Linked DNA regions of Homo sapiens. The gene in region 1 interacts genetically with each later gene. Each region holds a gene or a part of one and is shown on either strand. Other genes may lie near its edges.

What was found.
Region 2: changes in PTTG1 (region 1) and HUS1 together harm fitness more than expected from each alone (negative genetic interaction), as found in Homo sapiens cells (one large-scale study listed by BioGRID).
Region 3: changes in PTTG1 (region 1) and POLR3K impair growth when combined (synthetic growth defect), as found in Homo sapiens cells (one large-scale study listed by BioGRID).

The regions. Positions count from the first base shown.
Region 1 is NC_000005.10:160,426,944-160,429,299, forward strand, and holds the end of PTTG1 (securin), read left to right. Parts: intron 1-771; coding exon 772-930; intron 931-1,658; coding exon 1,659-1,738; 3' UTR 1,739-1,796; downstream 1,797-2,356. UniProt on the Homo sapiens protein: Regulatory protein, which plays a central role in chromosome stability, in the p53/TP53 pathway, and DNA repair. Probably acts by blocking the action of key proteins.
Region 2 is NC_000007.14:47,966,180-47,969,756, forward strand, and holds part of HUS1 (checkpoint protein HUS1), read right to left. Parts: intron 3,140-3,577; coding exon 3,040-3,139; intron 1,747-3,039; coding exon 1,627-1,746; intron 1-1,626. UniProt on the Homo sapiens protein: Component of the 9-1-1 cell-cycle checkpoint response complex that plays a major role in DNA repair. The 9-1-1 complex is recruited to DNA lesion upon damage by the RAD17-replication factor C (RFC) clamp loader complex.
Region 3 is NC_000016.10:45,897-48,410, reverse strand, and holds the end of POLR3K (DNA-directed RNA polymerase III subunit RPC10), read left to right. Parts: intron 1-853; coding exon 854-981; 3' UTR 982-2,004; downstream 2,005-2,514. UniProt on the Homo sapiens protein: Core component of RNA polymerase III (Pol III) which synthesizes small non-coding RNAs using the four ribonucleoside triphosphates as substrates. Can mediate Pol I proofreading of the nascent RNA transcript.

The DNA.
Region 1 (2,356 bases):
AGGCAGGAGAATCGCTTGAACCCAGGAGGCAGAGGTTGCAGTGAACGGAGATTGTGCCACTGCACTGCAGCCTAGGTGAAAGAGTGAGACTCTGTCTCAAAAAAAAAATATTCATTTTTTAATTTTTGACAAAATTTTAACGTTTTATATTCTGCCATTGGCAACAAAGGCTGTCAGTTTTCCTTGAGGTGATAGACTTCTTTCATTCCTTTAAGAAAAAGTGTGACAAGCACCCAGGTCTGAGTGACCATGGGATTTCTTGCAGTTGTTAATTCAAGTAAAAACAGTATTCCAGGAAAATGTTCTCTAGTTTTAGCTTGCAACTCATATAGTTGCACAAATCCTTTTAATCGTATTTTGGTGTACAGTGGAAGTGCTTTATGGCATACTTCTCATTTTATCACACAGAACATTAAAAAGACATCTCAAGGATGGAGAGCTAATAAAATTAATACTTTCTACTGCATATGGTGAAGTGACAGTAAGTGAAACTGGCATTTTTAAACTACAAGCGAAGAAGGATGCAGAACAGAGAGACTGCTAATATGGTTTACTGTCACTGCCTTGATTTGTGTTGAGGCACCAGCAGCTTTCTCCACCGCTGCCTTGGTACCATCATTACAAATGTCAACCCAGTGGAAAAAGGTGTGAATATTGTCTTGAAAATAGTTTTGACCTCATGGACCCCCTCAAAGGGTCTCAGACCACAAGGGATCTACAGCCCACACTAAGAACTGCTGCCCTGACAAAAACGCTTTCTCTCTGTAACAGACTTTGAGAGTTTTGACCTGCCTGAAGAGCACCAGATTGCGCACCTCCCCTTGAGTGGAGTGCCTCTCATGATCCTTGACGAGGAGAGAGAGCTTGAAAAGCTGTTTCAGCTGGGCCCCCCTTCACCTGTGAAGATGCCCTCTCCACCATGGGAATCCAGTAAGTGAGCAAGTGCCCTTCTGGAAGGGCTGCAAACAATTTGTTTCATAACACTTCCATTACCATGGGAAGAGTTGTGCGGGAGGTGAGCCTGTGAGTAATTTCTGTCCTTCAAATGACAAGGATTAGTTTTCAGAAAAATAAACTATTCTCGATTAATATTGCTTTTCAGTCCCAAATGCCCCAGTAAAATTGTTATTCTGGAAACTGGATAGTCTTACTACAGCCAAAAGATTAATTCTCACTTACATCTTCTTAGGCTATAAGTTGAAGCATATATAATAAACTTGCTTGGAATGATGATTCCATGTTATATCCAAAGCTAATATAAGATCAAAACACCTGTGCTGTAGCATAGACTGACAATAACTTCTTACTGCAGAAGGTCTGAGGTCTTCGTTTGAACTGGTAGTCAAAGCCAACATTATGTTTTCTGTTTGTTCTGATGTGGGATAATTTGTCCTAATAAGTTACATTAGTGAGACTGTTAACTCTTACTTTGGTCTCTAAGAACAATAGAGATTCAGATACTTCTAAAACTTACTTCCTAATGAAAGTCAATTCTGGGGCCACAGACACATTCCAAAAAATGTGTCAGGAGGGGATGCAGGTGATTGATTTGACAAAGGGAAAAACATGAATTTTTGATTGACAGCTAATGTCTATGTTGATATGGACAATGACTCAAGGATTTGCAGAAATTTTAATAAGAGATTCCTGTTTTCTAGATCTGTTGCAGTCTCCTTCAAGCATTCTGTCGACCCTGGATGTTGAATTGCCACCTGTTTGCTGTGACATAGATATTTAAATTTCTTAGTGCTTCAGAGTTTGTGTGTATTTGTATTAATAAAGCATTCTTTAACAGATTCTTCCTAGTATTGTGGTTGCTTTTCCATGGAGGTTACTTAAAATAACATGAAAGCTAGCTGAGGTGTTTAACAAAGAGTCTATAATGTGACAATAGAGATTTGTCTGATGTCTAAAAACTTAAATCTTTTTGGTTTAACAGCTTATTTTAGAAGCTGCCACTGTTTTTTCCTGAAAAGTATACCCCTCAATGTGTACTTTATTGACTTTTTGTGGCCATTAACTAGTGACAGTTATTAGATCTCTTAATTAGAAGAGCTACTTCCAACTCATTAAGTATCTATTGCTGGGCATTCTTTATTGCCGGTTCTACTTAGTTTCTAATGACTTTAATACTCAGTATTGAAAGGCTCTAAATCTGAGAATTCAGCCTCCTTGGGATCTTCAATTAGATTCCTTAAAGATCACTGGAGATAATTTACTGATAGTAAGGTCTACACTCCACCTATAGGAAACTGTATTTAGTTGTTTACCTTGTGTTGGACATGAGTATTTGAGAAGCATTATTATGTTTAATGTTTGACACTTTCCCAGGTAAGACAATGAAGCGCAGAAGTTC
Region 2 (3,577 bases), on another chromosome or scaffold:
GCAGAGACTGAGGGTGGCAGGACCTAGCTAGAGGAGGGGACAATTGAGCCGACACCTGAAGGAGACTAACAGAGACAGAAAAGGGGCTTTGGGAAGTTAAGAAGGTATGAGAAGTTCAACCCACGGTGTTTTAAAAAAAATTTTTGCTACATCACAATTTGCTGGTCTTCCTTTCTCTGCTACACGTGGAGACACCAAAGTGAATGTTGGGAAGACACTTGGCTTAGTCAACCACCTTTGATAAGAACTCTTCCATGTTCCTCAACAGCCTTGGATTCAGAAAGTCCCCAAAATACCAAGTTCAAAGACTGATGTTGTGCAGCGCAGGGGCCCCCCACACCCTGTGTTTCCACACTCTGCAGACAGGAGGGGTATTTCACTCTCTCACCATTCACACTGTGCTTGTCAGGACCAAGGGTCTGGGCATTGTACAGGAGCTTGGGAGAAGTGCAGCCATGAGGCCCAGCCCAAACTATGAATAAGGAGTCCCTTTACATGACCTTCAGGCGATCTCCATGCACATCGAGGTTCTCAGAAGCACCTTTAAGGACCCTGCACTGCCACACAGCTCCCACTATGCTCAGCCCTAGAAATATGACATCGTCCATGTCAAAGTTCCTTAAAATGCAGCACAGGTACCTCACCCCAAAACTCCCCATGATCTGGCCTAGTCTAGCTTCTCCATCTCTACCCTCAGAGCTGCTTCTCTGGCGATATCTCCTTCTGTGCCCATCACTCCAACTGTGTGACACCTTCCCCAATTCCCAAACACCCATTGCCCCTCCCATGGTCTCTTCTGATTCTCTTCATGTCTCTCATTCAAAAGGGCTGGTCCTTGACATTGCCACCTAGAATCTTCTGTTCCTTCTCTACAGCACACTGCAGATCTGAAGGGGATGAGGTGCAGTGTTGGCTCAACCTCCCTCTCAGCTCAGCCTGGGAGCTATGCTACAAAACGTGGAACTTCAAATCCAGGATGCAGTCGCTTTTAGGTTGCTGTGATTTCAGTAGTAAGGTGACAAAAATGCCTTGAAAAGCTCTTGGCAGGTAATGCCTTTCTCATGTGTGGTCAGTAGATGAAGAGTGCTGGAGCAGGTGTGTGACCTCACAAGATGGGGCCCAGCCAGAATCAAGAGGCAACTGTTAACAACCAGCAGCCAAGGGACAGATATGGGGCAGCGAATGCAGGCCAGCATAGCCACAGAAAGGAAACAAGACATCACAAGGGAAAACTTAAATCCAAGCCAAACCGTGTCTGGCACTCTGAGCAGGTCAAATTAGATGACCATGGAGAAGGTGGGATGATCTGCACCCATTCTCCCGATGGCATCTCCAGGTGTGCTGGCCAACTGAGGCAGCACACAACCCACCTACCAACCAGTGTGGCTGCAGGTTTCAGGCCCTAACAGAGTGCCCAGGGGTTGTTTCTCTGCTGCCACCTTAGGTACTTCTGAATCTAGGAAAATTTAAAAAACCCCACTGTTCTAGGAAGTTAAAGTCCACATAATTGAGCTTTTTTTTTTTTTTTTGGATTTATGAGACTATATGCAATCTGTTAGACTAGAGTTGACTGCAGTATTTAGAATATGAAAGAATATGAAAAACAAAACAGAGAAGCACACTCACTGCATAAGGCCTTTGTGGGATTTACTTGTTGTCCAGCAAGAAACTGTAGGAGCTTCCTAATATCTATGTGCACTTCAGCCATGTGTTCCACGTTTCTGTCCTCATGGGTGCTTTCAGAGGCTAAAATGATAGGAATGCATTTAAATACAACATCTTCCCACGTAACAGGAAACCTGGAGATACTCAATGCATTTTACTTAAATAAATGATTCACTTTAGCACTGATTTTAGCATCCTGAAGAAATATTGCAACTTGTAAATGTTGTCATTCATTAAGCATTAGGTCCTAACTATTTAAAATACTATGATAATTTCCAAGGCATCTTTATTTACAGGGGACTTGAAATATAACTCAATCTCCCTCTTCAGGTCAAAGAAAATTTTATTTATTTGTACTTACTATGTATTTTAAGAGTGAAAATATATACATTAACTAATACAAGGCCTGTCATTCTGGAGTGGAATTAAAAAAAAAAAGAAAACATCCTTTCTACCTCTGAGAAAGTACCAAAGATAAGTCCCACCTTATGTTTATTAAAAGAAACAAAATGAGTGACATCAGAATGAATCGCTTTACACAATATTATCAAAGGCATAACCGTATGGATTTCACTCTGCTGGAGCAGGATGCTCTTAACTAGAAAGTAAAAATTCCTTCCAACTCTATGCTAAAATCTGTGTTTATATTCAAGCAGACTCGTAGTAACTTAAATGTGACTAGGGCCGATTTTATTGGTTCTGGCACACTTATGTATCATAAAATGATTTTCTCATCATCCCCAGGTGTTTCTCCCCTGGTCCTTTACCTGCTTTCCTGCTCAGGCAGCCCCTGCTACTGTGCAGCTGCCACTTTCCAGCCATGATTCTAACCCCCTCTTGGCTTATAACTCACCAAACTGTCCAACCGTCCCCTCTCTCCCCACTTGCTGAACTGACTCTATCGTCCCTTATTACCTTGTATGAGATAAGAAATGTGATCAAGTGAAACAGTTTTGCATCTGCTACACTAATTTCATACATATGGAAGTAACTGAAGGAGGAGAATATAAGAACAAATGTATCTACCTTTCTGAATCCATGCCAGGTGAGAAATAGAAATCTTTAGGAGTAGGACAGGAATTGAATAGCTGGAAGGGATCTTGGAGGTTATGTAACTTGATCCGAATTCTACAGAGGATGGAGACCCTGCACAGATCTGTCAGCTACTTGGTGGCACAGCTTCTCCCCCTGGTGGCTAACTGCCCCACTACACCACAGGGATACATAGTCCAGTCTCAATTCCTTTGTTCTTCACCCAAGCATGAAACAAAGTCAACTGAATTTCAACCTTTTTACATGAAGAGACCTCAACAGGTAGGTTATCTGAAACAATTAACTTATCCAAAGCAAAATATAACCCACTAGAAAACTTACCTAATGGAGGATTTCCAAGATCTTTAAAATGAGTTGTAACACATACTAATTCAGTTTCTATTTTCAAATTCAATTCTCCATCTAGGTTTGCTTCAATAACCTGCAAATTGAGTATTTTACATAGTCTTAGAAAAGGAAGCCAAAAGGAAAAAAACTCCATGGGCAACAGCTTTCACACAACCAGATGACAAAGTACCCTACAAAACCTCAAAACACCTCAGAGCACACTGAGACCCCCGTGCTATCAGGGAAAGTGAGAAGATAAGGCCCAAGAGCCAAGAACTCAGAAATCTCCCAAAAATCTCAAAGGGGAAGTCCCCCTGCCTGCCTCCCGGAATGAAGAACTCAGTGAAGATGTGAAAACAGGTGGAACTCCGAGAGGACTTGCCAGGAGACTACAGCAGCACAAGGGCAGGGCTCTAGGGAGGGCTGGGTGGAGCTGATGAGAACTCCCTCACAGCAGGAGAGAGTCCTGCACTGAGAAGGAACCACGGGAAGTAAGAGCCTCAACTAAGCAGAATGGGCACCTTGGGCAAAA
Region 3 (2,514 bases), on another chromosome or scaffold:
CAGTCACCTTCCATGTTACGTTTCCAACCAGCCTTCAGCTGGATTTGAGAAGAACCATGGGACTCAGGGAGGGGAGGGGGAGAGTGTGTGAGTCACAGGTCTCCCAGATTCCCTTAGTGTTACAGCGTGGTGGGAATGACATCACTGTTTGTAGATCTACCCTTGTCAAGGGGGATCAAATGAGCAGGGAGGTTCTTTACCATCTTTAAAGATATTAAGTAGTCTGGGCACGGTGGCTCATGCCTGTAATCCCAGCACTTTGGGAGGTTGAGGTGGGCGGATCATGAGGTCAGGAGTTCGAGACCAGCCTGGCCAACATAGTGAAAACCTGTCTCTACTAAAAATACAAAAAAATTAGCCGGGTGTGGTGGCGGGCAACTGTAATCCCAGCTACTTGGGAGGCTGAGGCAAGGAGAATCACATGAACCCGGGAGGCAGAGGTTGCAGTGAGCTGAGATCGCCCCACTGCACTCCAGCCTGGGTGACTGCGAGATTCCATCTCAAAAAAAAAAAAAAAAGATATTATAGTAATACCTACTTTTTTTTTTTTTTTTTTTTTTTGAGTGCAGTGGCACGATCTTGGCTCACTGCAATCTCTGCCTCCTGGGTTCAAGCGATTCTCCTGCCTCAGCCTCCCAAGTAGCTGGGATTAAAGGCGCCCGCCACCACGCCTGGCTAATTTTGTATTTTTAGTAGAGATGGGGTTTCACCATGTTGGCCAGGATGGTCTCGAACTCCTGACCTCAGGTGATCCGCCCGCCTTGGCCTCCCACATATTAAGTAATACCTACTTTTGACAGCCATGAGTAGCATCTTTTTTTAAATGTGGTCACTTCTTTTTTCTCATTGCCAGAGTCGTGTCCCAAATGCGAACATCCTCGTGCTTACTTCATGCAGCTTCAGACCCGCTCTGCAGATGAGCCGATGACCACCTTCTACAAGTGCTGCAATGCTCAGTGTGGACACCGCTGGAGGGATTAGGGCCAGGATGGCCCAGCTGCCCTAGTGTGTGCTTGCCTTGTCCCTCGGGGTAGATGCTTAGCTGGCAGTATGAGTTGTGTGTCCTGAGGGTCTTTGCTAGTGTGGTGGAAAGATAAACCTTTTGAGGTGAAGAGCCAGGGGGTCAGGAAATATGGCCTATCTGCCAGGCAGGGTGGATGAAGTCATGAATGTCTGGGAGTTTTTCTGTGTGGGGAGGAGACAGAGACCCATAACTAAATATGCTCTGTGTAAAGTCCTATTCTTTCATCTTCCACTTTATTGGCAGTTGACATTCCCTTACTCCCAATCAACACTCTTAAATATTTGTACTGTTTGTAAAACTTAGTACATGTCCCTAAATATTTAACTGTTACTTGTAAACTTGTGTAATTTATTATTTATTTTAATCAAAATTCTGAATATTTCATTTAAATGAAAGTTGGAATATTGCCTTCTCAGTGTTTTAAATAGCTTAAGAGGTAGAAAGCAAACCCCAAATCACAGTGATCCCAGAATAGACTACATACTTACATTTGAACAGGCTACGAAAATGTTAATCACCGGGATTTCAATTTCTTTCTTTATTCCTATTCTTACTCCCTTATTCATTTTTTTGAACCTCCCCTGATTTGCTTCCTCGGGTTGCTTTAAATGTATAAGATACTATTTATTTATTTATTTATTTTATTTATTTATTTATTTATTTAAGACAGAGTCTTGTTCTGTCGCCCAGGCTGGAGTGCAGTGGTACGAATTCAGCTCACTGCAACCTCTGCCTTCCGGGTTCAAGGGATTCTCCTGTCTCAGCCTCCCAAGCAGCTGGGACTACAGGCATGCACCACCACACCTGGGTAATTTTGCATTTTTAGTAGAGATGGGGTTTCTCCATGTTGGTCGGGCTGGTCTCCAACTCCTGACCTCAGATAATCTGTCTGCCTCGGCCTCCTAAAGTGCTGGGATTACAGGCGTGAGCCACTGTGTCCCACCAATCTTTACATTTAATATGACTATTTTCTTATTGTTTGAACATGTTGATCAGTTCCTGATCACAATATGGGGCCTATCCTATATGGGTCCTAGAGTGGTTGGATTTTATTTTTTAACCTAAACACAGACCCTAGGTTTGAAAGGGTGTACTGGGTCTGTTAGACTTATAGGCATTTTTTTTTTTTTTAATACTTAGCCATGCATCTCTTGCATTGTCACTCCTTTAGGAGTGCATCTGTCTTCTAAGGGTTAGCTCTCCTAACTCTTTTAAATCCCCTCTAATTTGATTAATGATTGGGGGCAGCCTTCTGAACAATATTTCACGGGACGAATACCCAGTTTGTTTGGTGGGGGTGTACCTGACTTGGAGGAGGACCATGGGCGAGACCCGATCTTATTTTAGATGAGTTTCTTGACAAAATTTTTTCAGCAGCTGTTTGAGTGTCTGGTTCGTGCACTGTACTTGAGCTCTGTGGCCTGTAGGATGTACGCAATTTCCACTTTATTTTTAATAGTCTAGTTAAGTCCTGAACTCTTGCAGCCACA